Homo sapiens: one gene and its partners. The protein of the gene in region 3 purifies or fractionates together with the protein of the main gene of each other region. This does not show direct contact. Each region holds a gene or a part of one and is shown on either strand. Other genes may lie near its edges.

What was found.
Region 1: the proteins of CCN5 (region 3) and UROS purify together in Homo sapiens (affinity purification with mass spectrometry; one large-scale study listed by BioGRID and IntAct). This does not show direct contact.
Region 2: the proteins of CCN5 (region 3) and AMZ2 purify together in Homo sapiens (affinity purification with mass spectrometry, with the first as the bait; one large-scale study listed by BioGRID). This does not show direct contact.
Region 4: the proteins of CCN5 (region 3) and THAP12 purify together in Homo sapiens (affinity purification with mass spectrometry, with the first as the bait; one large-scale study listed by BioGRID). This does not show direct contact.

The regions. Positions count from the first base shown.
Region 1 is NC_000010.11:125,812,534-125,816,758, reverse strand, and holds part of UROS (uroporphyrinogen-III synthase), read left to right. Parts: intron 1-233; 5' UTR 234-259; coding exon 260-322; intron 323-498; coding exon 499-582; intron 583-1,628; coding exon 1,629-1,725; intron 1,726-4,225.
Region 2 is NC_000017.11:68,244,254-68,252,851, reverse strand, and holds the start of AMZ2 (archaemetzincin-2), read right to left. Parts: upstream 4,810-8,598; 5' UTR 4,147-4,809; intron 2,667-4,146; exon of another isoform or gene 2,665-2,666; coding exon 2,382-2,664; coding exon of another isoform or gene 2,372-2,381; intron 2,059-2,371; coding exon 1,885-2,058; intron 1,803-1,884; coding exon 1,674-1,802; exon of another isoform or gene 1,465-1,673; intron 1-1,464. UniProt on the Homo sapiens protein: Probable zinc metalloprotease.
Region 3 is NC_000020.11:44,711,828-44,720,514, forward strand, and holds the start of CCN5 (CCN family member 5 isoform 1 precursor), read left to right. Parts: upstream 1-3,541; 5' UTR 3,542-3,563; coding exon 3,564-3,623; intron 3,624-4,797; exon of another isoform or gene 4,798-4,966; intron 4,967-8,069; coding exon 8,070-8,286; coding exon of another isoform or gene 8,287-8,294; intron 8,295-8,687.
Region 4 is NC_000011.10:76,355,268-76,363,227, reverse strand, and holds part of THAP12 (52 kDa repressor of the inhibitor of the protein kinase), read left to right. Parts: intron 1-2,164; coding exon 2,165-2,272; intron 2,273-7,573; coding exon 7,574-7,610; intron 7,611-7,960. UniProt on the Homo sapiens protein: Upstream regulator of interferon-induced serine/threonine protein kinase R (PKR). May block the PKR-inhibitory function of DNAJC3, resulting in restoration of kinase activity and suppression of cell growth.

The DNA of each region.
Region 1 (4,225 bases), on a different chromosome or scaffold from region 3:
GTTTCATCTGTCTTTCCAAGTGATATCAACTGCTAACATGCTCTTTCTTGGCCTTATCAGTGACAGGGGTCTTCAGAAAGAACAAGCCCATTAGTGCTAAGTCATGGTGTAGGAGGGATAGGTCTCTTCCACAAGCATTTGATTGCCTTCTTCTTGTGTACCGTCCCCATCGGAAATTGCTTAGGAAGAGTCTTTGAGATCTAATTAAGATCTGTTTCCTTGCTCTGTCGCAGTGCCCTATAAGGACTGCCAGGCAATAATGAAGGTTCTTTTACTGAAGGATGCGAAGGAAGATGACTGTGGCCAGGATCCGTATATCAGGGTAAGTGGCCTGAGACTCCTTATCCCACAGTGTCCTTTCTACTGAGTCAAGGGGCCTGGAGCAGGCAGGGATGGGTTTTGCAAAACCTCAGAGGAACTGACGCAGAATAAATTGTTAATGTTCCCTTATTTTAAAAACAGCCCTAGCCAATCCAGAACTATATTCTTTCATTTCAGGAATTAGGATTATATGGACTTGAAGCCACTTTGATCCCTGTTTTATCGTTTGAGTTTTTGTCTCTTCCCAGTTTCTCTGAGAAGGTAAGGCCTGTTGTGACTGAGCACCATGTTAGTGTTTGATTTCTCCCTTGCCAGCTGAAGCCAGAGAGGGACTATTTTACTGTCTTCTTATTTTATTCCCAAACTTTAAAACATGGCAGCATAACTTCACCTGGCTCCAGGAGGCTGCTGCTGTTGGGAGGTTCTGACTGAGCCTCTATCAGCCCCTCCAGAAAGCCACCCAGACTCAGAGATTGGGGCCCAGGAGAGCAGGTCATGGTGAGAGCAGCAAACCTGCATTGCTCTCAGCAGTCCTAGAACCCTTTCACTCATCCTCTCATTTAATCTACCCCTCACCCCCAACTTCTGCAAAGCAGGCCAGGGAGGTATTATTTTCCCGTTTTAGAGATTGGGGTCTCAAATTAGGCAACTCAGCTAAGACCTCTAGCAAGTAAGAGACAGGGCTGGGACTCAAACCCAGGGCTTCTGCCCACAACTTCAGTTCTTCTTCCAGTGAGGAGTGATAAAAATTGCAGGAGACAAGTCCAGTAAAGCCTTCCAAATGCTTCAGAGTGAAAATTCAGTGCCCACAGCTTCAGTGAAGTCAGATATGTACAGCAGCCTAGTGCCTGGCTCAGAGTAAATGTTCGGTAGATGATATCACCATTATCCTCTTTGAAAATCAGGACTTCAGCATTGATATCACCCCCTGAATATTCCCATTTTTATTACAGATTCGGGTCAAGTCTTCCCCCACTACCTGCACCCCACTCTAATCCCAGGCTGCGTCAGGCTTCCCCTCTGTGCTGCAGTGCACTTATCACCCTGTGTTTCACTGTCTCTGCCCTAGACTCTGAGCTTCCTGAGGGAAATACTGGGAATAAGGAATTCACCTGTGTACCCTAAAAGTCCTAGAATAAATAGTTCCAGGCACATAGTAAGCACTCAGTAAGTGTTGGGGGGATGGGTGGAAGGAATTAGTTTGCCTACTACTATTGTGAAGCATTTGGAATTCTGAGTCTTAGCTCCTTGGAAGATGTTGAACATAGCCATCGTATAAAATGTCTTTATTGCTTTTTGGTGTGCAGCTTTCTCATCCTGAAGATTACGGGGGACTCATTTTTACCAGCCCCAGAGCAGTGGAAGCAGCAGAGTTATGTTTGGAGCAAAACAATAAAACTGAAGGTGAGGGTGGGTCTGCTGTGGATTCCACTGGACATTTATTTACTCTTATTTCTCCTGCTGGGAGACTAAATTCCAGAAGCAGCTGCACTTCTAAGAGAAGTGAGTGCTTAGTGGTATCAGGTCACAGACTCTGCCTTGGGAAACAGGAGAACAGGGCTATCTCCTAAACTCCCAGACAGATGACCCTGAGGAGGACTTTCCCCTGTCTATTCGTTGTTCACCTCCTAGGGACTGATATATCCCCTTAGAAGGTATCATCTGAAAATAGGATAAATACTACTTTCCTGAAAGAGAGATGATGAAAAAATCTAACTATGAGAAAATGGTCAGTGCCACCATGTCAGGCACTTAGTGACCCAGTCACCTCTTTGACTTGTCTTCCCACCTCCGTCCCTCACTATTAGAACAGTATGAAAATGGCAGTGCCCATTAACAGAACCCTGGGTTTCAGCCTGAGCAAACACCTTAATAAATGCAATTGAACAGCTTCCTAGCTAACAATTATGGAGTGCCTGTTGTATGTCAGACCCTGTGTAATGAATACTTCACGTTCATTACCCCACTTAACCCTAGATAACAATCCAGAGGCACACATTGCTATGATCTTATGTCTTATGTTACCATTGAGAAAACTGAGGCCAGGATAGTAAGCACAGAACAAGTCAGTGCAGAGCCAGGCCTCACACTCGGGCCACCCACCTCCACAGTTACACTGATGAGCGGAGGCAGCGGGCAGAGTGGTTATGCAAGGGCTTTGGAGTGAGTTAGTCCTGGGTTTATGCAGCCATTTGGACATTAATGAGTTCCTTGACCTCTCATCATGGGATTACTACTAATAGTAATGGGATTATCTACTAACAGTAGACTATTAGTTAGGTAGAACTTACTGAATGCTCACTCTGTGCGAGACTCTGTCCTGAATACTTTTTCCTGTGAGATAGATGTGCTTAGTATTTTCACTTGGCAGATGAGGACCCTGGAGAACAAAGGGTATGGAACTTTCCAGGCCCCCACAATGTGTAAAGCACAAGTGCAGGATTCAAGCTGCAGAGTCTGAGTCCCAAAGGAAAGCATCCAGGACATTACCTGGAGCAGAGTGGGCATGGAGTAAGTGACAGTGGTGAGTTTTGGTTATTCTGTCTCCACATTTAACCAGGCTTCGCTGTAGCCTAAACATCCCACCTTCTTGGTGATTTCATACACACATTCACCTCTTGTTGAAAAGAAAGCGTGAGAACCTAAGAAACTCAGAGCCAGCCAGGCGCAGTGGCTCATGCCTGTAATCCCAGCACTTTGGGAGGCCAAGGTGGGCAGATCACTTGAGGTCAGGAGTTCCAGACCAGCCTGGCCAACATGGTGAAACCCCATCTCTACCAAAAAATACGAAAGTTAGCTGGGCGTGGTGGCACATGCCTGGAGTCCCAGCTACTCAGGAGGCTGAGGCACGAGAACCACTTGAACTCAGGAGGCAGAGGTTGTATGAGCCGCGATTGTGCCATTATACGCTAGATGGGGAAGCATGTGTACTCTTTCCCAGTGGTGCTCTGGGTGCTTTTTCTTGCAGTTGTATTTTTTCTTTTTGTGTATGTTTTGAGGATGAAGATAATGAAAAAGAGGAAAACCCTAGAAAGGTCACTATAACTCTTTCTGGTGCTTTATAATAAAGTTTAAAATGCATTTTCCCATGTATTTTCTTATTTTGATTCTCACAACAACCATAGGGAATAAGCAGTAGGAGTGTAGTTAATCCCAGTTACCTTGATGAAGAAACAGACGAGGTGCGTTAACTGACTTACCTGGGACACACACGTTAAGGGGCAGAGCTGGCTCTGTGGAAGGCTTTCTGACTCCACCCAGTGCTCACTCCAGTTGTTCTGCTGTGAGGCTTGGAAAGTAGTTTGTTTACATGCTATGGATAACTTTTGAATAAATACTATTGATATTTATGGGGTAGGAAGCAAAGTGGAACTCAATCTTTGGTTACCATTTCAAAGGGAATTTCCCTTAATGTAAAGGGTAGAGGAATGCTCTTGAATTTAAGGGAAAGTTATGTTCATAACCAGATTTTGGAAAGGAAGAACCATTATTTCCCTGTTTTCTAAAAATGTAATGAATGCCCAGTAGCTTTATGATATATTTATACAATCCATTTTCTCTTTGTGTTTCTTTAATCTATATTTAAAGATTTTGTTTGATCATAAAATGATAATATTCTGTATCAAATTGTGTTTGTTAATTGACCTGAAATTTATTATTTTTACTTTGGTGTAATGGATAAATGAACCCTCTCCTCTGAGATTACAGTTTGTTGACTGCTTTCAGATTTATGTCCCAAATAAACCAATTGGATTTCCTTGTTAGACATTTAAGTTGCTTTTTTTAAATGACCAGTGTCTTTTTCTTTAAAAGTCTAGATTTAAATTTTTGATTTCACTATGCAGATTAATTCTTCAAGTTATGTTGATTTCGTGGTTCCCATTAAAATTCTTCTAGTACCAAC
Region 2 (8,598 bases), on a different chromosome or scaffold from region 3:
GAACATATGGTTTTAAAATTATTTTTTTAGCTGGGTGTGGTGACTCACACCTGTAATCAAAGCACTTTGGGAGGCTGAGATGGGAGGCTCGCTTGAGCCCAGGACTTCAAGATGAGCTTGACCAACACAGGGAGATCCCATCTGGCCAAAAAAAATCCCATCTGGCCAAAAATAAAATAAAATAAAATAGCCGGGTGTGGTGGTCCTGTGGTCCCAGCTACTCGGGAGGCTGAGGCAGGATGATCCCTTTAGCCCAGGAGGTTGAGGTTGCAGTGAGCCATGATCACACCACTGCACTCCAGCCTGGGTGACAGAGGGAGACTCTGTCTCAAAAGAAAAATAAAAGGTAGATAGAATTATTTTTCAATGTTTCCATCTCTATCAGGTTAATAATAAAAGAGAAAACTTATGATAAAAAGCTACCTCACACCACCAAAATCAGTAAGAAAGTAGTGACCCACGTCTCCAAGAGTGCATGCTGGTAGGGCCATGGGGGCCACAAGAAACCTCACATAAATGGAGAATAAAGAATAAAGGAGTAAGTGGGAAGAGGCTCTATAACCCTACAGCCCCCACCTCTAGTAGAAACATTTGTCCCAAAAAGCTTACCACCCCACACAAATCCTAAGGCTAATGTAACATCCAGACAGACCATAAACTCTCAGGATAGTCCCTGTACTTACTCCCCATCCCCAGAACACTAATGAACCACTCCCCTTAGGGGGCCTTTTCCCTTTCAAGTCTGTGTTGGATTCTTAGGGATGAAGTTAGAGAAATAAGAACAATAATTAAGGGGAGGGGAGAAGTAGAGAGATGACAAAAAAAAAAAAAGGTTAAAAATATGACCGGTTTGCAGAACCTTTCCCATCCCTAATATTACCATACAGAGTTCCTAATGAGTCAAGGTTTATTACATATCTCAAATCAAAGATGGACGTTTTGACTCTTTAAATTAAAAAACAAATGTCGTATGATGAGAAAGAAGCATACACTTAGTCTATGGCTATTCTAACTGTGCAAGATGACTATGAAAAGAATTGAAAAATAATTAGCAAGATTTTCACATCCATTGATAGCTCAAACTGTAATTGGTTTAATTCACCTTGCTACTGAATTACTGACATTTACTAGCTGTTATGCTGTATGCCTATATATATGCCAGGCCTATATATACATTTTTTTTTTGAGACACGGTCTCACTTTATTGCCCAGGCTGGAGTGCAGTGGCTCGATCATGGCTCACTGCAGCCTCAACCTCCTGGGCTCAAGCAATCCTCTCACCTCAGCCTCCTGCGTAGCTAGGACTACAGGTATGTGCCACCATGCCCAGCTAATTTAGTTTTTTAAATTTTTATTTTTTTGTAGACATGTGGTCTATGTTGTCCAGGCTTATCCACACTTTTTATGTACAGGCACTTTTATGTAAATTATCTCCAAATGACTCCATGATGTGGGTATTGTTACCTTTAAGGTCCTGTAGGTAGTGAGTGGCCAACCAGAACCTAGATTATCACAATCTACCAACAGCACACTTCCCATTATGGCATAATGTCTCAACTGAAAATATTTTAAATATCAATATGATTCTTGGTTGGAATTTTTTCCCTCTTCTAACATCTTCAAATATTCTCAAGCTGAAGAAGCTTCTAACAACAATGCCAAAAACGGAATACCATCTGTCAAAGAGGCCTGTCCAAAGACAAAATTCCACGAGTCTCTTGGGTAAAGATCAATCATTGTTATTCCCACAACACAGAAGGCATCTTCAGGTTTCTTCTTTTTCAAGAACTTCAGGATGTCCCCTATTTAAAAAGAAATACATAAATGTATGAGTGTATATTATATACATATACTCAGTTCGAATTGCAAAGTCGTGTAATTCACCTGCATGAATTTGTAGGTTGTGTGTGTTCTCATTGACTCTAAAGGAACATCTTGTTACAGAAACAGGAACTGGTTCTAGGAGTTTTACTCTCAAGCCATAGAAATATGCTTTACAGTAGCCCGTGAGCCATTTAATATATTCTTCACTGATAATTCTGGTGTTTCCTAGAGAGCCTACAATATGGAAGAACATTTAAAAACAGACTTTAAGATGATTATTCAGTGTTTACCCAGTCTATGAGTAAGAAGATTCAAATTAGAAACAAAACCAACTCTAAATTTTCAATAACCTTTATCATTCATTGGTGTTGCTATGAAACAAAAAGAAACAAAATGTTATCTTTTAAGTCAGTTTGGCTACAAAACTTGTACCGCCGCAATGAATATCAAAAACGATCCTAAAACGGCCCATCTGAATCAGACCCATAGCCTGGACTATTCCTGACAAGAGCGCCACTGCAAAACTGAACCAAAACCAGCACATTACCAGTATTTACCAATGGACTGTATATAAATGCTGCGTTTGTTTGGAGAGGGTGTCTTTCTGTAAGGATCACTGAAGAACTGTTCAAAGTCTTGGGGAGCCTCAGGGTGGGAGGTGATCCAATCTGATGGAGAATGCAAGGTAATGGGTCCAAAGAGATCACTGGCTGGCTGGAAGGCTTCATTCATTAAACGTTGTTCCCCAGCATTTAATTTCTCATACTGTGATACAAGCACTGGGTTCTTTGAGATGAGAGCTGTTTTTAGTGTCTGTTCGGAGTGCCGTATTATTTGCATCTAACAAAAAAAAGCAAGTAATCAAATATAAAAATACATATCTACATTGGGGACTTTACCTATCCTCTATATTTCAGCTCTGATTTCTCCCTAGAGTGAAATGACTGATTGCTAATGCTTTAGAGTGGTCACACTTAGAGTGGTTTCCTCATGTCCAATTTCTTGGAGATCTAAGAAATTAAAAAGACAATCATGAAATCCATTCCTCCATCTCATATGGAACCTGCTCCCATTACAAAAACTAGTGGTGGCCAGGTGTGGTGGCTCATGCCTGTAATTTCAGCACTTTGGGATAGGAGGATTGCTTGAGGCCAGGAGTTTGAGAACAGCTCAGGCAACATGGTGAGACCCTGTCTCTACAAAAAATTTAAAAATTCCCTGGGCATAGTTGTGCACATCTGTGGTCCTAGCTACCAGGGAGGCTGAGACAGGAGAATCACTTGAGCCCAGGAGCTTGAGGCTGCAGTGAGCCATGACTGTGCCACTGCACTCCAGCCTGGGCAAGAGTCCAAAACAAAAAAAAAAAACCTCACGGTGACCACAGGAGCAGGACCTCACACCCAACTTCCTTCTTTTGGGGAATAATATTGGCCTGGCACAGTGGCTCACGCTTATAATCCCAGCACTTTGGGAGGCCAAGGCAGAAGGATTACTTGAGCCTAGGAGTCTGAAATCAGCTTCGACATCATGGCAAAACCCCATATCTACAAAAAAATTAGCCGGATGTGGTGATGTGCACTTGTAGTCCCAGCTACTTGGCAGGCTAAGATGGGAGGATCATCTGAGCCCAGGAGGTCGAGGCTGCAGTGGGCCGTGATCGTGCCACTGCAGTCCAGCCTGGGCAATAGAGACTCTGTCTCAAAAAATAATAATATGAATTAACTCATCAGTGCCACATGAAAAATACTCATCGTTTCTAATGTGACTCAAAGATCTTCAACATCAAATAAAAACAAAACTAATGTAAGCCCTATCATTTCTGCAATTTAACTGCAGGCTGAGAAACTACAGCTTAGCCACTGAAGTTTATGGCCTCAAAGTCATGTCACATTAGGGAAGACATCAGATGACTAATCAAAAGCCAGCCTCACAATGACAGGTTTCTTCCATTCACATCGTGTTCCTATATAGAGCTTTCATCCTTCCTCTTGAATGGGTCCGATGTTCCACCACGAGGCTTTTTGAATTAAGGAAAAAGTTGAACATCTCTGTCTGGATCATCTTTGTCATATTTTCTAATTATTTAGATTTTGCCAGTTTAATGATAGACGATTGATGGGAAAACTTAAGCTAATGTCTGTTCTGATTGAACCTATAAATTCTGGGGTTGAAGAGGCTGACTAAAATTCCAGACCAAATGTCTCTGTACTCAAAGCTCTGATATAAGCATAGGCTCATCCTCACTCCTACACAACTGGGCTGAAATCTGACTTCTACAGGACAAAATATAAAACAAGATGTACCTTCCTGTAGTCTACCTACCTTGATTAGGAAGGAAGGCTCCCATGGAAGCTTTTAACTTACAAGGACGGACATGTCTGGGCCTGGCTGGAAGAAAGTTGTGGAGTGTGACTTCATCTTAATATTAAAAAGGCAGTGTGAAAGGTCAGGAGGCCTCCTCTTGCCTCCCAAGCCTAATCTAGGGAAGCTGCGGGAGAAGATGGGCAGGGGGCGCAGAATTCGGTCACTGCAGTGGGCTGGAGGCCTAGGATGCTTTGGTCCCAAAACCAGAACATCACGGGCAAACGGGAAGGAGCTGGCCACCCTGGCTGGTTGCCTATAGCAACTCGCACTGTGGGCTCTGGTCCATGCAGACACAACCCAGTCTCCAGCTGGGAGTGGAGTGGGGGTTCCCCAGGGACTCTCGCTTCGCCTCTTCTTCCCCAGGAGCCTCGGGAAAGGCCTCCCTGGCTCCCTAGAGGCACCGACCCCGCGGACCCCGCGGCTTCCGCCACGTCCGCCCCTCCTACATCCTCATCCCGCTCCACCGACCGCGACCGGCCCCCGCCTCTACGACCCGGCTACCCTGCCTAGGGGCCCCGGCCCAGCTCTGACAGCACCCGCGAACCGCCCTGACCCGACAGGCCTCGATACCACCCACCCGCGGCAGCCCTCACGCGCATGCGCACCGCGTCCCTTCGCACTGCGCCACGCCACGCCCACTGGCGCCACGCCCCTTACGCCACGCGCCGCGCCGCTGCGTCGCGCACGCCCTGTGGGCCCCGCCCAACTCACGACCCACCCATGCCACGCCCCTGAGCGTGCGGCCGCCTGGGCAGGCGCAGAGCTGGAGTTCAGCGGCCGCGACCCGCCTCTTCCAGAATAGAGGGTAGCGAGGGGACTACAAGCCCCAGCTGTCCACCCCCGCAGTCGCCGATTCCTCGCTTGCGCTCGCGGCGGCTCCGCGGCCCGGTTCTCGAGAGCCACAGATGCGCCCGCGTCGCTGGGGTCTCCCGTGTGGGAACGTCCTCGGCAGGCCGCGGGTTTGAGAGGCATCGCCGGCGTGACGAATGCAACCAGCGTGGCCCCAAATGAGTCGGCGGCCGCCGCAGGTTGACGTAGAGCCGCAGCGCTCCCCGGGGCCGTCACCCTCAGCACTTTCCCTTCTTTATTTGTTGGGGGCCGCGGGGGCTGGAACCCAGAAGCGCAAGTGTGGGGCGCGTCCTCGTGGCGTCCCTGGCGCTCCGAGGCCGAAACCCGGATGCTGAGGGGAGGCCGTGAGCTCGGAAAGGCACCGCGGGGCCGGCATTAGGGCTGAGCTAGCTCTGTACCCTCTGGTGGGACTTTCGGTCTCTCTGGGCCTCGCCATTCTCTTTCTTTTTCTTGCTTTTTTTTTTTTTTTTTTTTTTTTGGAGACGGAGTCTTGCTCTGTTGCCCAGGCTGGAGTGCAGTGGGACAGTCTGGGCTCAGTGCAACCTTTGCCTCCTGGGTTCAAGCGATTTTCCCGCCTCAGCCTCCCCAGTAGCTGGAACTACAGGTGCCCGCTATCACGTCCGGCTAATTTTTGTTATTTTTAGTAGAGATGGGGTTTCACCATGTTGGCCAGGCTGGTCTCGAACTCCTGACCTCAAGTGATCCGCCCGCCTTGGCCTCCCAAAGTGCTGGGATTACAGGCGTGGGCCACCGCGCCCGGCTTTTTTTTTTTTAATACGGGTTTTCACCCTGTTACCCAGGCTGGTCTCGAACTCCTGCGCTCAGGTGATCCACCCCCCCGCACCCCGGTCTCCCACAGTGCTGGAATTACAGGCGTGAGCCACGGCGCCCGGCCTGTTATTTTGAAGTCAAGCTATTTTACCATCCTCTGGATTTTCGTCATCCTAATTCTCCTTCCCAGTCTCAAGGAAAGACAGGCACATTTTCTTGATGACTTCAGCATTTGTAACCCCTTGTTGGCTCTCCTTAGAGGACATTAACTCTGAACCTTTCAACTTCGAGGATCTCTTTAGCCCTTCCTTATTTGTTCACTCTCCTGGATCATGAATTCTCCAAATTTGTCCTTTGAACCCAGTGCCCATATCCACCCTCACCTGAACCCATTCTTGAATAAAATGCATTCCTACCATGACTGTTCTCAAAGTTTGAAGTTGAGAATACCGATGCGCCACTCCTGCTTCAATGCTTGAGAAGTCGTGGGCTTTCTTCCATGTGCCTTTTGACTGGGCGCCTATCTCCCGACAGCCTGAGGTGGTGTAGCATAGGGGCGAAGGTGGTCTGTGCTTGAATCCCAAAACCCTCACTAGCGTGGGACCTGTGTCAACTACTTGACCTCTTTTGTAAAACGGAGACAATTACAGCACATCTTTTTTTATTATTATTACTTGACACGAAGTCTCGCTCTGTCATCCAGACTGGAGTGCAGTGGTGCGATCTCGGCTCACTGCAACTTATGCTTCCTGGGTTCAAGCGATTCTCGTGCCTCAGTCTACAGAGTAGCTGGGACTACAGGCACACACCACCACGCCCGGCTAATTTTTTTTTTTTTTTTTTTTTTTGTATTTTTAGTAGAGACAGGGTTTCGTCATGTTAGCCAATTTTTGTATTTTTAGTAGAGACGGGGTTTCACCATGTTGGCCAGGCTGGTCTTGAACTCCTGACCTCAGGTGATCCACCTACTTCGGCCTCCCAAAGTGCAGGGATTACAGGCGTGAGCCACCGCGCCCCACCTACAGCACATCTTAACAGAATTTTAGGGATCAAATGAGTTCCTTTGGATACTGTGCCTGTTTTTGACTGAACAGCTGTCTTCTGACATCCTGAGTGGCTTCTTTAGCTTAGTTGTCACCTCTTCTATAGCCTCATCCTGCCTCATGACAAAACTTTACTTCTGCCTGTTCATTGCCTTGTGTGTACATAATAATACTGCAGTTGTCCTTGTCACAATGATTGTAACCTATTTCTTACATGTCACCCTTACTCAACTGCGAGATGCTTGAGGGTAAAGACTCTCTATACGAGGTGTCTGAAGCATAAAAGGTATTCACTAGATTTTCAGTCAGTTTTTTGGTATTCATTAAAAAGAACTTCATTTTGCGTTTAAACTGTTTAAATTTCTAAATCATGAACTTTGTACTTGCTCACAAATTTTAGGATAGCATTATTTCTGCATGGTCTAATATTTATTTTCTTAAATAACTGACCAGGCATGGTGTCTCATGCCTATGATCCCAGCACTTTGGGAGGCTGAGACAGGAGAAAGGAGAATCACTTGAGCCTAGGACTTCCAGACCAGCCTGGTCAACATAGGGAGACCCCATCTCTAAAAAAAAAGAAAAAAGAAAAAAAAAAAGCCAGGTGTAGTGACACATGCCTGTAGTCTCAGCTACTTGGGAGGCAGAGGTGGGAGGATGGGTTGAGCCTAGGAGATCGAGGCTGCAGTCAGCTGTGATTCACAGCACTTCAGCCTGGGCAACAGAGTGAGACCCTGTTCAAAAAAATAAACAAATAAACACCTTAGTGCTTCGGGGGGGTTAGGTTTTTTTTTTTTTTTACATTAGAAGGAAAAGACACTTTCTCTTACTAAGGTATTTTTGCCTGTTAACTAATATGCAGTTGCAGAATGAACCATAGTCTGTCTGCATTTCAAAGAGCACTACAAGTTCTGATATTTAAAATGAGTGTATATGCCAGTGGCCCAAGGTTGGAGAAGAAAGTTGGTAACAAATTGGAAGGTGGCAGAAAGCAGGAAAGAAATGTAACATATATGGCAGATGAAGGGTTTTAAAATAGCTTTTACAAATCAGCACAGAAAAGATAAACACCATGACATAAAAATGAGCAAAAAATATGAACCATATAACCCGAATGGTCCATTAACATCCATGTGTTCAACTTTACTGAACACATGAATGAAATAAAATAAAAAACACTAATAATTTTTTCTTACCTGCTAATTTGGCCAAGCTGTTTGTTTTGAAATAATTTCTAGCTAAAAGAAAAGTGGCAAAAGTAGTATAAAGAATCCCTGCATTCTCTTCACCCAGATTCCCCAGTACTTAACATTTTACCTCATTTCTTTATCATTCTCATCCTTTTTGTGTCTTTATCTCTGTCTCTATATGAAAATATACATTGTTTTCCTGAACCATTTGAGAGTAAATTACAGGCTGGGCGAGGTGGCTCATGCCTGTAATCCCAGCACTTTGGGAGGCTGAGGTGGGTTGATCACTTGAGGTCAGGAGTTTGAGACCAGCCAGGCCAAAACGGTGAAACCCCGTCTCTACTAAATATACAAAAATTAGTGGGTCATGGTGTTGCATGCCTGTAATCCCAGCTACTTGGGAGGCTGAGGCAGGAGAATTGCTTGAACCCAGGAGGCGGAGGTTGCAGTGAGCTGAGATGACATCACTGCACTCCAGCCTGGGCAACAGAGCAAGACTGTCTCCAAAAAAAAGTAAATTGTAGACATGATGCCCTGCACTCCAAAATATCTCAGAG
Region 3 (8,687 bases):
GCTATGGACATGGCTGGGACCAGCGTGTCTCCCTCCAACTCTCTTCCTCACACCTCCTCATTTCTCCCGTCTTCCTTCTTGCCTCAGAGATAGAAGTGGCTTAAAACTGTTCCTTTCAGGAACAACTAATCAGTGGCCACAGAGGTCAGAATAGCGGGTACCTGGAGGACAGAGGGTAGAGTCTTGGAAGGGGCATAAGGAAACTTCTGGAAGTGTAGCTTGACCTGGGTGATTATCACATGGGTATATACAGTCATGTATATACATATGTCAAGAGTCAAAATTAGCCAAACATGCTGCCTCATGCCACCAGCTACTCAGAAGGTTGAAGAGGGAGGATCCCTTGAACCCAGGAGGCTGAGGCTGCAGTGAGCCATGTTCATGCCATTGCACTCTAGCCTGGGAGACAGAGTGAGACTCTGTCTCAAAAAAAAGAAAGAAAGAAAGGAAAGAAAGAAAGAAAGAAAGAAAGAAAGAAAGAAAGAAAGAAAGAAAGAAAGAAAGAAAGAAAGAAAGAGTTGTCAAGCTCTACACTTCATATTAGTGCACTTTAAGCACTTTTCTGTATATACATTACCTCTCAACTTAAAAAACATTATCACAGAGAGCTCTATGGACAGTAGCAGAAATAAACAGCATCAAAAACTGAAACTTGGGTGTTGGAGTCATATGAACCCGCACTGAAAACCTGGCTCTGTTTTCTAGCTGTGTAGCTTTAGGCAAGTTACTTAACCTTTCTGAACCTCACTTTTTTCAATTGAGATGTGGATCATGAGGATTAGAAATGCTGCTTTTTATAAACAGTGCTTAGCACAAGGGCTGGATCTTGCTGGGTGCTATACACAATTGCTTTTATTTTTATTAATATCAGTGGCCTAGGGAGGACAGGAAAGTCGGAGTGACCTTTCCTGGATGCAGGCAATAACGGGTGGGGGGCCTACAGAATTTAAAGATAAAATAAAACTGATGAGAAGTCAGTCTGCTTTTATGATCACTGTGCAATGGCAGATCTAAATAATTTCAGTGGTAAAATACTTTGTCCTGAAAATACCCTTTATTGATCTAAGTTCTAACAATTGGTGCAGTAACTGTTGGGGTTTAATAATGTATATGTAAAGCTTCAAATCAGCACATTTTTATTCTTATCCTTTAATAAACATATTCTACATGGAAGTCAACTTGACTTGGAGAACTTTAAGAATCCTATAGTTGCCCCCAGAGCATGTGGTCTCAGGAACACACATCAGTTGAGAGTAAGCTCCTCACAACTCTGGAATCTTCCAAGCTTGCTTTGAATGCATTCCTGTCTCCACCGTCCAGCATTCATATTTCTGCATTTATTTTTATTATTATTTTGTGTGTGTGACAGAGTCTCTCTCTGTCGCCCAGGCTGGAGTGCAGCGGCAAGATGTCGGTTCACTGCCACCTCCACCTCCCGGGTTCAAGCAATTCTCCTGCCTCAGCCTCCTGAGTACTTGGGACTATAGGTGTGCACCCACCACGTCCGGCTAATTTTTGTATTTTTTTTTTTAGTAGGGACGGGTTTCACCATGTTGGCCAGGCTGGCCTTGAACTCCTGATCTCAGGTGGTTCTCCCACTTTGGCCTCCCAAATTACAGACGTGAGCCACCGGCCCAGCTGTATTTCTGTGTTTAAACAGTAGAGTGAAATCAACTATGAACGCAGAATGATGGGAAAGATGACGATAAGGGTATTTCAATTTTGTCATTTTACGAAACTACTTGGAGTTTTGATTTGTATTTACAGTTTTTAAAAGAGTAAAACAGTGTGAACTGTGAATGGTAATGATTTTGTTTGGTAAGTGCAAATTTTAATTCATACATGAAAAATATTTGTTTTGTTTCATGATTATTACTGAAAATAATTTTGTACTATGAAGGAAGAGGGGTGTTAAAAATGATCCACTGTGGATGTAAATTATTCTAGGCATGCTTCTGACTAAAACATTAGCATTTCCACAAGAATCCCAAAAAATAAAACAAAATTTAAAAGATCCCTTCTGTTTCTTTTCCTCCAAGTTTCCAGACCCCCATCTCCACCCTGGCCACCTCTTCCTGCCATAAATAATCAAATCCCACACTTTCATCTTCACCTTCCGTTTCCATTGCCTCTTCCGATGGGACAGCACCCGTGGGGAATCTCCTCCATGCTCACAATCCCCGTCTTGCCACTATATCAAGTCACACTTCTTCCTCACCAATCGCCCATTCTGGAACCTCTGCTATCCAGCTAGATCACTTTGAGGTTTGGACAACTACTGGTGGAGGTAATGGGGGCCCCAGACAGCCCTTGACATCACCTCTTTTATCTTTGCCAAATTCTACAAACAAAGCCCATGTCTTTCTGTCCCCCGCCCCCATGGCTGGCACATAGTAGATGTCCCCAAATCTTGGTGATGTGAACTTGTGTGTCTCACCCTTCACAGACATCACCATTTCCCGTTGCACAGAAGGCTCCACTCATACCAGGCGCTTTGGCTCCCAGAATAAGCAGGCTATCATGCTATGTCCGACATCTAGGCGTTGGTACGTACTGTTCCCTTGGCCTGGAACATTCTGCCCTCTCTCACCCTCTCTTTTCTTGGCTTTCTGAAATGGCACCTCCATCAGAAAGTGTCCCTCACTCTTGGTCTGAGCAAGGGACCTTGCCTGGTATTCCTGAACTTCCACCTGTTTTCCCTCTGTTTTCTCCCTCTCTGGGCCTTGTCCTCAGGTCAGTGTTGTGCCTCCAGCTCCTGCAGAGGCGAACTCAGAGGCGGCCGAATGAAACCAAATGGATTTGGCTTGACCCCATCATCTAGCGGTGCCCAGCAAGCGCTGGCACATAGTAGGTCCAGCCTGCCCGGACTCGCCCACCACGGGCCCCCTTCCAGAGCCGGGAGGCAGGCCAAGGGAGGCCCCTTATTGCCAAGAGCAAACAGGCCGCCCAGGGAAGTTTTGCTCTGGGTCACACCCACCTCTGGGTGGCTGCCAATCTGCCTGCCAGAAACCGCAGGCTGGGCCGCGGCTACCCAGAGTCAGGGCCACGGAGCTTAGGAGACCTTGGGTCAGCTCTGCAAAGGGGTTGTTTACTGAATGCTTCTGGTATCTGCAGCCCCGCTGGGGTTCGGACAGGGGGTCTGGAATAGGGCTTCACAACTACAGCAGGGCTAGGACCCTCTTGGGCTGGAAGGAGCTGGAGAGGCCTCTGCAAGCTGTCACAGGCTCTTGGTGCTGGCACTGGCTCAGGCTTTCACACACACACACGCGCACACACACACACACACACACACGGACAGGCACCCCCTTGGTGGCCTTCACAGTTTCACCTTCAGGTAAATGGGCTCATCCTTTGAGCCATGAGGATGGGAAGCGAAGCAAGGAATGAAAAAGCTAGTGTGTTTGTGTGTGTGTGTGTGTGTGTGTGTGTGTGTGAGCGCGCGCGCGCGCGCGCGTGTGTACTCGTGCGTGTGCCTGTGTGTGCCTGGGAGTGACCTCACAGCTGCCGGAACATAAAGACTCACAGGTCCGCCTCCCAGGCTCAAAGCTGGCTCTGCAGGGGACATGAGAGGCACACCGAAGACCCACCTCCTGGCCTTCTCCCTCCTCTGCCTCCTCTCAAAGGTAAGGAGGCCCGGGCCCTGGAATGCACTGCTGACTATTTGGGTGTGGAGGGGGTGGGGATGTAAAATCGCAGCCAAGGACCCCCTTGGCAGAATTCCTCCAGGGCCCCACATTGGGCACAGTCTGGCCCCCATGCCTAAGCAGGGCTTCTCTCCCTGGAACTCAGAGCTGCCTCCGGCCAGCCCTGCTGTGTGACCTCAGATATGTGTCTTGCCTTCTCTGGGCCTCAGCATCTTCCCAGGTGAAGGGTATACAGTTTGTGAGGCCTCTGTGAAGACCATTCATGATCATTCATCAAACTTACCAGGCAAATTGAAGAGGACTTTAATGTATCCTCATTATGAATGGGGGCACTCAAGACATGACATGCTTGGCCTAACTCTGAGCCAGCATTTGGATGGATGCCTAGCTGATTGGAAGGTTCATTCTGCAAGGGCATCAATGCTGTTGGACTCTTAGGCAGTGAGTGACCCGCCCGCCCTAGCTAGAGGGGAACAGGAGACACCTCTGTGGAGTAATGGCCTTATCCCTGAATGCTGCATGGGACATTCACCAAAGAGCCTGTGGGACATCTACCTTGTCTAACATGCACAACAATCCCATAAGGAATTTTCAGTTAAGTGAGGCTCAGAAAGGGTAAGCAACTTGCAACCCCAGTTTTCAGTCAAGTGAGGCTCAGAAAGGGTAAGCAACTTGCCCAAAGCCACACAGCAAAGAAAGGTCAGAGCAATAGAGGAGAGCCATGGTGGAGCCCAGAATGACATGGATGTAGGGGGAGAAGCACTCCAGTCTGTGCCTCCCCAAGCCCAAACTGGACCAAGGCCACAGCTGCTAAGCCTTGTCATCCCCTCGGCAAATGCTGAGTTCCCAGAGCCATGGAATCGGCCCCACCACAAGCCACGATCTCACTGTATTTTCACGCTCCTTTGAGGAGCACGGGCAGGAGCTTCTCTCCCTCAGGCTCCAAGTCTTCGTGCCTGGGAAGCCTGAGAACCACGCTGGCATCCTGTCCTGCTGTTTGTTCTTCCAAAGGGGATGGGTAGGGCATGATGCCAGTGTGGGTGGCTTGGGTAGTTGGAATAGGGGACTTGGGGCTCTAGGAGGGAGAAGGGGCCCAGGATTATACGAGAACAAAGTAAAGCTGTCCTAGACTTGCCATTAGGGTGAGACTTACGGGACCATTCTTCCCTGGTCCCAGGAAGCAGGGACTGCACAGAAACACAGGGACTTAGTCACCACAACATGGAAAGCCACAGCAACCCTCAGAGGGAGAACTGTAAGTCTTCCAGGCTGGCCGTTGGCTCCGGGGCTCCTGGCTGTGGACCGGGGCAGGAGGCAGACACCTGGACACAAGCAAAATCACATTGATCAAGGACTGGCCAGAACCTCATTTAATCTCCATCATCACTCAGAAACAGGTTGTCTCTACTCCAGTTTACAGAGGAGAAAACTGAGCTTCACCTCCACCTTCCAAAGCCGTTTGTCCACATGTTCAGTCACGTAGCAAGTCACTGGCAGAACTTGAATCTCAACTCTTGCCCAAAAAACTCCATGCCCAGTACTCCTGCCCCAGATATCATGAGCCTTGCCCCCCACCACCAGATATCACAGCAAGGCCCTGGGGAAACTGAGGCACAATGGGACAACTTGAGTTTGGGCCTTGGATGTCAACTTGAACTTGGATGTCAATCCTGATTCTGTCTCTTACTGGCTGTGTTACTACACGGTTTGAGCTCCAGTTTTCTCATCTTTAAAATGGGCATAATGATGGCACCTCACATTGGAGGGGTAAATGAGACAACAGCACTTGGCACATGACATACATATGGTATCACATGAGATAATTGTACACTAGAATAGTTGATATCATTAATAGCCTCTCCTGGGTATCGGGGCCTACAGAGTCCTGCCCCCTGACAAGCATGGCCAGTAGAGGGGTCCACAGTGGGAGCCAAGGTGCACAGCTGCTGGTCTATTTCCTGGCACTCCTGTTTTCAGGTGGGAGGGACCTGAGAGTCATTTCTGACAGTCCTCCCTCCATTGCCCACAAGCCAAGGGAGCTGAACCTCTGACTTAGAAGGGAACCCAAAAGCCTAGACCGTTTCTATGTGAATCACCTGTGGATTTATGAAAATGCAGATTCGGGCTGGGCGTGGTGGCTCATGCCTGTAATCCCAGCACTTTGGGAGGCCGAGGTGGGTGGATCATGAGGTCAGGAGTTTGAGACCAGCCTGGCCAGCATGGTGAAACCCCGTCTCTACTAAAAATACAAAAAATTAGCTGGGCATGGTGGCATGCACCTGTAATCCTAGCTACTTGGGAGGCTGAGGCCTCCCAAGAATTGCTTGAACCTGGGAGGCGAAGGTTGCAGTGAGTCGAGATCGTGCCACTGCACTCCAGCCTAGGTGACAGAGCAAGACTCCATCTCAAAAAAGAAAAAAAAAAAAAAGAAAGAAAAAGAAAAGAAAATGCAGATTCGGATTTATTATATAAAAATTCAGCTTCGGATTTATAGAGGGGCTCCAGATGCTGCCTCTCTGACAAGCTCCTAGATGACGCTGCTGCTGCTAGTTCAGACCACACCTTGAGGGGCGAGGCTAGGCCATCGTCTCTAGAATCTGAACAGCCTGCAGCGATGGGATCCACTCCCTTGTGAGGCAGCCAGACACCTAGCTCCGTGTGTCCATCTGCTACTCAGTGCTGTCTCAGTGGGGGCTGTGATCGCCTCCTACTTTGTGGCCCCCACCAGAGGCTGGTCAGCCAGTTTGCAATGGCTCCTAGTGGCCGGCGTGGGAGTTGCCGGGAACTGAAAGCAGGTTTGCAGGATTGTGGGTAGTGGGGGCACTGGGCGGGGCAGAGGGTGAGGCAGAGCAAAGGGGTCATTGCCTGCTTTGGGGCTGCACAGGAGATATGAGGTCATTAATTCCATCATTATAAACTGCAAGCCTCCATTCCTCTAGATGAAACCCTCATCCCCTAAGGATCCTACTAAACTCAAACTTGGCCCCCCAAAGATGGGGCCACTGGAAGCATCTTGAATTATACTTCCTTCTTGGTCCCCACCTTCAAATGGGCAGACAGGGAGCTCACGGCACCTGCTGTATGCTTTGGTTGTTTCTCTGATGTGGGTGGCGAGGGTCAGGCAGGCCACATGGGCTGATACCCTGATCCTGTCTCTGGGGAGTGGGTCCCTGGCTTACGGACACAGTCTACCCCCATCCCGTGTCCCTGAGTCCTCACTTGGGAAGCAGGACCGGGGACGCTCCCAGCCCTGAATCGAACACACTGACGTGTGCTAAGTTCCTGTCCCTCTCTGGAGCTCAGTTTCCCCATCCGTACCTGGCAGGGGGAGGAGGTTAGACTGGGGCAGAGGTGCTGAAAACCTAGCTGAGCTTCAGAAGCCACTGGACAGCTTATTAAAAATAAAGATTCCAGGTCCCTGACTCTGGGACTTCTGATTTTGTAAGCCCCAGAGTGGGTTGGGGGTCTGTATTTTCCCAAGTCTCCTGGCTGATGTGATGTACCTCCAGAGCTGGGACACATGCTGAATGGATCGAAAGGCCAAAAACATCCATGATATGGTTCAATTTATTCAGTCCTAAGATAAGTATCCGTATGCTGGAAAATGTACCAGACCCTACCATTTTCATCCTTGACTTGTTGCTTTTGCCTTTCTGTAAGCTCCCAGAGGGCTGGGGCTGAGCCCTCTGCCACCATTAACAACAAGGATCATCAAAGCTAAGTGCAGTGAGCGCCTACTGCATGCCAGGCCCTGTGCTGAGGGTTTGCTGTGCAGCATTTCATGTACTCCTCAGAGCAATCCTCTGAGTTAGATACTTTGAGGAAACTGAGGCTCAGAATGCTTAAGTAACTTCCTCAAGGTCACTCAGCTAATAAGGGGCAGAATTAGAACTGGAAGTCTAGCCAGGTGCAGTGGCTCATGCCTATAATCCCAGCACTTTGGGAGGCCGAGGCGGGCGGATTGCCTGAGCTCAGGATTTCAAGACCAGCCTGGGTAACATGGTGAAACCCCATCTCTATTAAAAATACAAAAATTGCCAGGCATGGTGGTGGGCGCCTGTAGTCCCAGCTACTCGGGAGGCTGAGGCACGAGAGTCGCTTGAACCCAGGAGGTGGAGGTTGAAGTGAGGCTGGGATCGCGCCACTGCACTCCAGCCTGGGCAACAGAGCCAGACTCTGACTCCAAAAATAAAAATAAAAAATAAAGAACTGGAACTCTAGTCCAGAGTCCTTGCCCATAACTACATGCCATACTGCCTCTTAGGGCATGTTGTGGGACTACTGGCCTTTGAGGCCAGGTCTGCATGGCTCTGAGGCTAAGGTGTGGACACCACACTACCCAGCCTGGCAGAGAAGTGGCTGGTTGTGAGGGTCTCACTGCCCACCTCGAAAGCCCGTGGCTGAGTGAGGTCTCTGTCTCTTCAGGTGCGTACCCAGCTGTGCCCGACACCATGTACCTGCCCCTGGCCACCTCCCCGATGCCCGCTGGGAGTACCCCTGGTGCTGGATGGCTGTGGCTGCTGCCGGGTATGTGCACGGCGGCTGGGGGAGCCCTGCGACCAACTCCACGTCTGCGACGCCAGCCAGGGCCTGGTCTGCCAGCCCGGGGCAGGACCCGGTGGCCGGGGGGCCCTGTGCCTCTGTAAGCAGGTTTGCAGGACTGAGTGGGGGCGGGTGTGAGCGGGAGGTCAAGGCCGTGGTGTCCTGGATCAAAGTGCAGCCCTCCTCTCTCTACCTCCTTGGGTGCTCACTTCAGGTATCCCATCCATTCCAGCTGAACTTGGTGTCCCAAAGCCCACTCCCCACTCCCTCCTCTCCCTTCTTGGCCTCTGCTTAAACCATCTCACTACCCCAATAACCTTTCCCCATCCCTACCTGTCCAAATCATTGCCAACTTTCAAAGCCAAGTTCAAACAGCTTCTCCCCTGAGAAGCCCCCCCAGATTCTTCAAACCAGATGCCACCACTCCCTTCTCAGGATCCTTACAACACTTTGGGGAAAATAAAAGTGCAACCTTTTAGGGCATAATATGTGTCCAGAACT
Region 4 (7,960 bases), on a different chromosome or scaffold from region 3:
GTATCATACGTAGTATTTGAATATTGTCTTTTTTGGCATGTGTCCTTATAGATATTTATATTTTTTATTATTATTATTTTTTTTTGAAATAGGGTCTCACTCTGTTGCCTAAGCTGGGGTGCAGTGGCGCAGCCATGGCTCACTGCAGCCCCGACCTCCCAGGCTCAAGCAATCCTCCCCGCTGAGCCTCCCAAGTAGCTGGAACTACAGGCACATGCCACCATACCTCGCTAATTTTTGTATTTTTTGTAGAGATGGAGTTTTGCCGTGTTACCTAAGCTGGTCTTGAACTCCTGGGGTCAAGCCGTCTACCCGGCCAAGGCCTCCCAAAGTGTTGGAATTACAGGTGTGAGCCAACATTCCTGGCCAAAATAAATATTTGTAAAATGTCATTTTTTTCATTCATACATTCTGTTTTCTGATCTATAATATCTTTGCTTTATTTGCAAATAGAAAATCAATTTGATTTGACTTTTAAAAATTTGTTAAAATGTTTTATTCCTCCCCTCCTTATTTAATAATTAGTAAGATATCAAGAATTGACTGTGTATGTGTTTTTGCTTATTTTGGGGACATTTGCTCGGTGTGAAAGATGGGGGAGCTTTGAATATAATAACTTGTACTCCCTTCAGTGATTGTGTCCCTAACCAATTCCTCATTCAGCCTCCCTAGTAGACTCAGGATCACGAGCCCAGCACTAGAAGTTGAGTGTTACTAGGAAGTCAGAGAATCATCTTTGTGTTTTCTATTATGGCATGGAATTGAACTAGAAAATATTGACTCTGAATAGAAATTCATCCCAAATGTGTTTAACAACTCTTTGGGTACAACCCAAGATAGTGTGTTCCATTTAGATACATGTTTTCCCTTCATGTCTTCCCAACCTCCCTTCCTTGGGTGAACAAATTTAGAAGTTGTTATTTTTGTTTGGCATGTTCTTTGAGCATGCTTAGATATTTTGAAATAATCACTGCTTCAAAGAAAGCTTATTTAAATGAAGTATGTCTTATCTTTATCATTCCAAATTCAGGAAGAAATTAAAGGCACTATTCTTTGGACTGTCTGAGGGGAGTGTAATAGCAGTTATTTATTACTGTCCCTCTTAATAAGCTTCTTGTCTTTTACTCAGCCTCCTCAGGGCTGGCAGTAGGACCGTTACCATCTAAGTATGCATCCAGCTTCTAGCCAAGTTGGATGAAATTAACAGGAAGTAGGGTAGAGTATGATCATTCTTTCATAAGATGATTAGGACTTGAAAGAGATACAGAAATACCTAGATTAGCATTTGCAAAAATGTGATTATGTATATCAGTATCACTTGTGGCGTGAGAGTTGGTTTCATGTGGCAGATGAATCAATTTTTATTTTAGAAGTTTTGTAGTATGTGTTAAAAACATGTTTAAAAACTTTTTTAAAAACATAAGATAACATCAGATCATTCTTCCTACAGTTTTATTACTTAAGACAGTGTTAACTAAAAAATGAGTAGATTGTGTAAAAATACAGATGGTAATATAACTGAAATGGCAAGCATTGTGATCATTAGTATGTGAATAATTTCATTTTAGGAAATGTTGATCTAGTTCAATACCAGAATTTTATTCAGAAAAAGAAACTGGGGCCCAAAAAGGGAAAGTAATTTAGCCAGGGTGTCTTAGTGAGTCACTCACTGGTAGAGTTTGGACTAGTTCCTAGGTCTCCTGGGTCCCAGTCCAATATTTTCACTGTGCCTTGATGCTTCTCAGTAATATTAGCAAAAGTGGAACATTAGGTAAAATAGGGATGCATTATTATGGAACATACAAGAGTGCAGATTATTTTGGGAGACTTGTACCTCCTGTAGATTTGGTGGGCTCATGGAAGGACAGTACAGATAAAGTAGCTGGGATGCTGAATTAGAAACAGATATGCAAAATGCAAGTACATTTTATATTTTATGCCTACCTTCAATTCAGTTTCTTAATTTATAATAGATTGCCAGAAGGGCAAATGCAGGCACAGTTGGAAATAGTAGACTGACCTGAACTGACATCAAATTCTGTAAGTCTCTATACTTTAGAGCTGGAGTTGAAGGAATATTGTGGAGGTCATTAACATAGAATTTTATTGATGTGTAATATATTTATAAGGACCATCTCTGAATTAACACAATTTTCTTTTTCAGAGTCCTTATAGGACAGTTCTTCGAGATAATGCAATACCAACAATATTTGATCTTACCAGTCATTTGAACAACCCACATAGTAGACACAGAAAACGAATAAAAGAACTGGTATGTCTATGTACTTTCAGCTTTCCCACCTTCCCCCATAATACTATGAAATCAAATACAGATGCATTTATGTTAAAATTAATCCAAATTACTCTCTATTTCAGAGGTAATGTAACGGGAAATAAATGTTATGGTTGTTAAATAGCCTAGATGTGAGATGATGAGTTTTAGTATTTAAATTGGAAAATCTCCCTCAGAGTTAGCCAGTTGATACTTGTTGACTTGGTCCAGAGTGTGCTGTTAATTACAGGCCACTAGCTCATTCCCTTCTGGAGAAGAAGGAAAAAGCTACCTTTTCTTTCATAGTAAGGAAAATAGAGCTGAGGTGTTTCCAGAGTTCAGCACAAAGGAATAAAGAAAGGGAAAGTGTAAAAGTGGAGACATGGAATGTTTTAAAGATAAGGTTTCTATCACTATTAAATATGTACAGGGTTTAGAAAAAAACACTGAAATTTCTGTATATGGCATAATTTACACATATTCTTATGTTCCTTGGATATCCTTCAGTTCTGAGGATTGACACCTATCTGTATTTTGTTGACCTTAGGTGAACAGAAGTACAGTAACTCCTTAGTCCATGGCTTTTTGTCATCATTGCCACTAGCAAGGCCCTTATTTTGCTTTATTATTTTTCCTTCTTCACCCACTATTACCATTACCATTCCTTTCCCTACCAGTTGGTGTCCATGCTAGTGTATTTAATATATGTCCTATCAGTCCACCTACTGTGTGCTTTTTAAAGATAGCATTTATCTAATTTTCCTTATTCTATGCTTACCTTTCTATTTAGATATTTTATCCATTTGGAGTTAGTATGTATGATGTACAGTAGGGATCTATAATAACTTTTTCTCCTTATAGAGAAACTGTTTTCCCAACATGGTCTGTTAGTTCTTCCTTTCGTCCACTGGTATAAAATGCCACCTCTGTTATATAACAAGTTTACATGAGGCTGTTTTGGGGAGTTCTGTTCCATTTCACTGTATTATTTGTTTGCAACTATACCACACTGTTTTATTACCATGGCATTGTAATATATCTTACTTTCAAATAAGGTGATTGTTTAACTCTTCTTTTTCTTAACTATTTGTGGACCTTTATTCTTCCCTATGGATTTTTTTTTTCCCCCCCGAGACAGAGTCTCACTCTCACCCAGGCTGGAGTGCAGTGGCATGATCTTGGCTCACTGCAACCTCCACCTCCCGGTTTCCAGCAATTCTCCTGCCTCAGCCTTCCAAGTAGCTGAGACTACAGGCGCTCACCACCACGCCTGACTAATTTTGTATTTTTAGTAGAGACGCGGTTTTGCCATGTCAGCCAGGCTGGTCTCCAACTCCTGACCTCAAGTGATCCGCCCACCTCGGCCTCCCAAAGTGCTGGGATTATAGACGTGAGCCACCGGCCTCCTCCATATGAATTTGAAAGTCCTTTTGTCAAGTTCTCCTAGAACTTCTTTTGGGATTTTCATTATAATTGCTTTGAATTGACATCTTTACAATATTAGCTATTGTAAATTTATTACTAGTTTAGTATTACTGTTAGTAAACGAATATTACTAGTTTACTGTTACAGTATAAACTATTGTAAAGTATTAACTAGTTCTATCCATGAAGAGAAAAAAAATCCCATAAAATACCTATCAAATAACAGCAATCATTGACAAAACTAAATACTAGTTTTTTGAAAAGAATATTAGAATACTTTTAGGAGTACAGAAAACGAAAAATTTTGAGAGCTTTTGTTACAGTTGTTTAAATGAGAATGTATGCATTCTTAGATCACTTCTTAAATACATTATGGTTCTTACTGGTATAGATGATATATTCTGGTTGAAATTGTTTCCAGCACTTTTGAAGAACTTCTTTTTAAGTTAATCCTAGTAAGTCTTCTGAGTTTTTCCTCTGTTACTGATTGTATCATCTGCAAATAAGGAGAAATTTGTCTCTTTCAGTTCTTATTATTTTAATTTTTTCTGTTGCCTGTCTTGTTTAGTCAAGATCCCTGGTACTATGTTGAACAATTCTAGTAATGTCATACTTGCCTTGCCCCATTAAGTATAATGTTTGCTGTTGGTATTGTTAGATAGTTTTTATCAAGTTAAGGAAATTCCCTTCTACTCCCATATTCAGAGTTTTGTTGTTTTTTTTTAAGATGGGGTCTCACTCTGTCACCCAAGCCAGAGTGCAGTGGGGCAGACACTGCTCACTGCAGCCTCCACCTCCTGGGCTGAAGCAATCCTCTTACCTCAGCCTCCCAAGTAGCTGGGACCACAGGTGTGTGCCACCATGCCTGGCTTATTTTTTTGTATTTTTTTTTATAGATGGAGTCATGCCATGTTGCCCAGTTTGGTCTCAAACTCCTGGGCTCAAGCAGTCCTCTTACCTCAGCTCCCCAAAGTGCTGGGATTACAATAGTGAGCCACCACGCCTGACCTATATTCTGTTTTTATATTTAACTTATCACATGCTTTCATTGCATGTATTTAATAGACAAGTTCATTTTTTTCATTCTTTAATGCAATAAGTAATACTAATGGATTTTCTGTGAACCATCTGCATTTCTGTAATGAACTCTAGTTGACTGCAATATGTCTATTTGCTTTTATATACCATTGGATTCAATTGGTCAATATTTTATTTAGGATTTTACATTTGTGAATCTTGGTCTGTAGCCTTCTTTTCATGTACTCTTATTACCCAGTTATAATATCAAGGTTCTATTGGCCTCATAAAATAAGTTGGGTATCTTTTTTTTTTTTTTCTCCTAGAAAAATTTGTGTAGGTAGATGTTATCTGCTCTTGAAAGTAAGGTAGAACTTGGTAAAACCATTAGATGGCTTGCGGTGGATGAGGGAAAGTTTTGATTGCCATTCTGCTATCTTTATTGGTTTTCTTTCTTTCTTGTGTTTTGTTAATGTTTCTAAAAGTTTATGAAACTTTAATAATCTTTTCAAAGAACCAGTAGTTTTGTCAGTGATTGTTGTACTTATGAACTATTTTATTGGTTTTTCTTTGATTAGGGTGATTTATTTTTTGACTCTTTTTCTAGCTTCTTGAATGTTTAGCTCATATTTATGTGTATTCAAAGCTATAAAAGTCTCTCTTAGGTCCATTTTAGCTATACCCTACAACTTTAGACATATAGTGTTGTCATGTCTGGCTGTAGGTATTTTGTAATTTCTCTATTTTGTTAACATAGGATTGTTTTTCTTAGTTTCCAGATGTGGAATTATTTTTAATTGCTATATGATATTTTAAATTTTAAATGTTATTAAGAGATACGTAGAGGATACATATAGTCTATGTGATGTTGATTCTTTCTGATTTTTTTGCATCCATTATTGCTATTCAAGTCTGTGCCAGCCTGATTCTTGTTCCTTTTTAGGTAATCTTCTTTTCTCCCTCAAAGCTTTTTAGAAGGTTTCTTTATATTTGACATTTTAAAATTTGCTAACCTGTATCTAGATGTGAGTTTTTTTTTTATGTACCTTAATTTGTCATCTTACAACTGAGGACTTACACCTTAAATTCTGAGAAATCCTTAGTTTTTATTTTTCTTTATGCATTTTCCCCTCTATTTGTTTATTTCTATTTTCCTGGGACTTAGATGAATACTGACACTTACATTACAGTCCTCCATATCAGCTTTCTTCTTGGTGTCCATGGAGGACTGATTCCAGGAGCTTCCCTCAGAGAGCAAAATCCACAGATACTTGATTCCCTTATATACAGTGGTGTAGTATTTGCATATAACTTACACACATCCTCCCGTGACTTTAAATCATTTATAATACCTAATACAATGTAGTGCTATGTAAATAGTTGTTCTGTTACATTGTTTAGAGAATAATGACAAGAACAAAAATCTGTGTGTTCAGTATAGACACAACCATCCTTTTCTTTTTTTTTTTTTTGAGACAGAGTCTCGCTCTTGTTGCCCAGGCTGGAGTGCAAGGGTGCGATCTCAGCTCACCGCAACCTCCGCCTCCCGGGTTCAAGCAATTCTCCTGCCTCAGCCCCCCGAGTAGCTGGGATCACAGGCATGTGCCACCACGCCCGGCTCTTTTTGTATTTTTAGTAGAGACGAGGGTTCTCCATGTTGGTCAGGCTGGTCTTGAACTCCCGACCTCAGGTGATCCTCCCGCCTCAGCTTCCCAAAGTGCTGGGATTACAGACGTGAGCCACCATGCCCGGCACAACCATCCATTTTCAAATAATACCTAGATTATTTATGATACTTAATACATTTATGTGTTTGTAACACCTACTACAATGTAAATGCTATGTAAATAGTTATGCTACGTTATGTAGGGGAAGAATGAGAAAAAAAGTCTGTACATGTTCAAGATAGATACAACCATCCATTTTTTCCCCAGCATTTTCAATGCATGGTTGGTTAAATCCATAGATATGAAGTGTAATATGTATCAGGATGAGGAGCTCAATCACTTGCTGTCCTGTAGCTATCATTTCCCTGTAGTCTGTCCCTCAGAGAGCCTCACATATCTCACAGCAGGCATACTCTTCCTGACCCACCATCCTTATAAACGTGCAGTCCGTAGGATAAGGAGGGGATGTCCAGGTTGACCAGCCTGCTGATGTTTCTTGTTATCAGCACCATGTCCAGTGCTGCCCAACAGGCATCCTGCTGTCTTCAGCTGTCACTGGCATTGCTGCTTTTCTGCCACAGAAAGTAACAGGTGGCTCATGATTTAAGCATTGTAGAGGGTTGGAAGGAAAGTAAAGGATGCAGCTGGAAAGTTCTTCCTTTGTCTAACCCTATTGGTGCCACTTGGCCTACTATGCTCTGTGTATGCTCTGTGTATCTCTTCCATGCTGGTACTTTCACCTTCTGCTTCTCAGGGATTTCTCATCACTTTTGTGTTGAGTCCTGAGATTCAGCAACCTCCTTCTTATGGGACATCTCCAGGGTTAAATTGGGAAGTAAGATGATTTGTGTCCTCTTGAATTTAACTCCAAGTGCCATGGTGTATTTTTGTGCCTTTCATTAGCCAGTAAACACTTATAACCCAAAGTTACGATGATTTAGGTAGAAAATAAGCAAAATGATGTATTCTTTTTTCCCTAAGACTTTGTTATAACCTTGGAGTCATTAACAGCTTATTCTGGTTTTCTCATTGTCTGTTTGTTTGAAGAATGTGTACTATATAAAGAATTTATGCTCTTGAAAGAATTAAATTGACTCAGAATAGGCATTTGTATTTGTGAGTCTAAGATGATACACTAGAGGTCAGTTTTTTAAAGATGATTTGTTTTTTTCTTTTTTTTTCTTGACATTTAGAGTGAAGATGAAATCAGGACACTGAAACAGAAAAAAAGTAAGTGATAGTGTTAATGACTCAACTTCTGAATGCCTTTTAAAAAGGCCTTGACCTGGTAAGGACAAATAAATATGTTCTGTGTTGAAAACCTACCTTGAGAATGAATGTAGGAGTGTGCTCAATTTTGTCCTGTGTTTTGGAATTATCTATGAGACTAAAGTCTAATTTTAGTTTGTCTTTATTGAGTGCTGCAATGCCACACACTATGCTATATGCAGGCCTCATGGAGGTGACGCCTCCTCTCTCAGTGTGGTAGGGGTGGCAGGCACACAGTGCTCCATTGTAGGGAAGGAAGGGCAACAGTAGAGGCATGCACTGAATCTCTTTTTCTGTCCACCCAGTTGTGG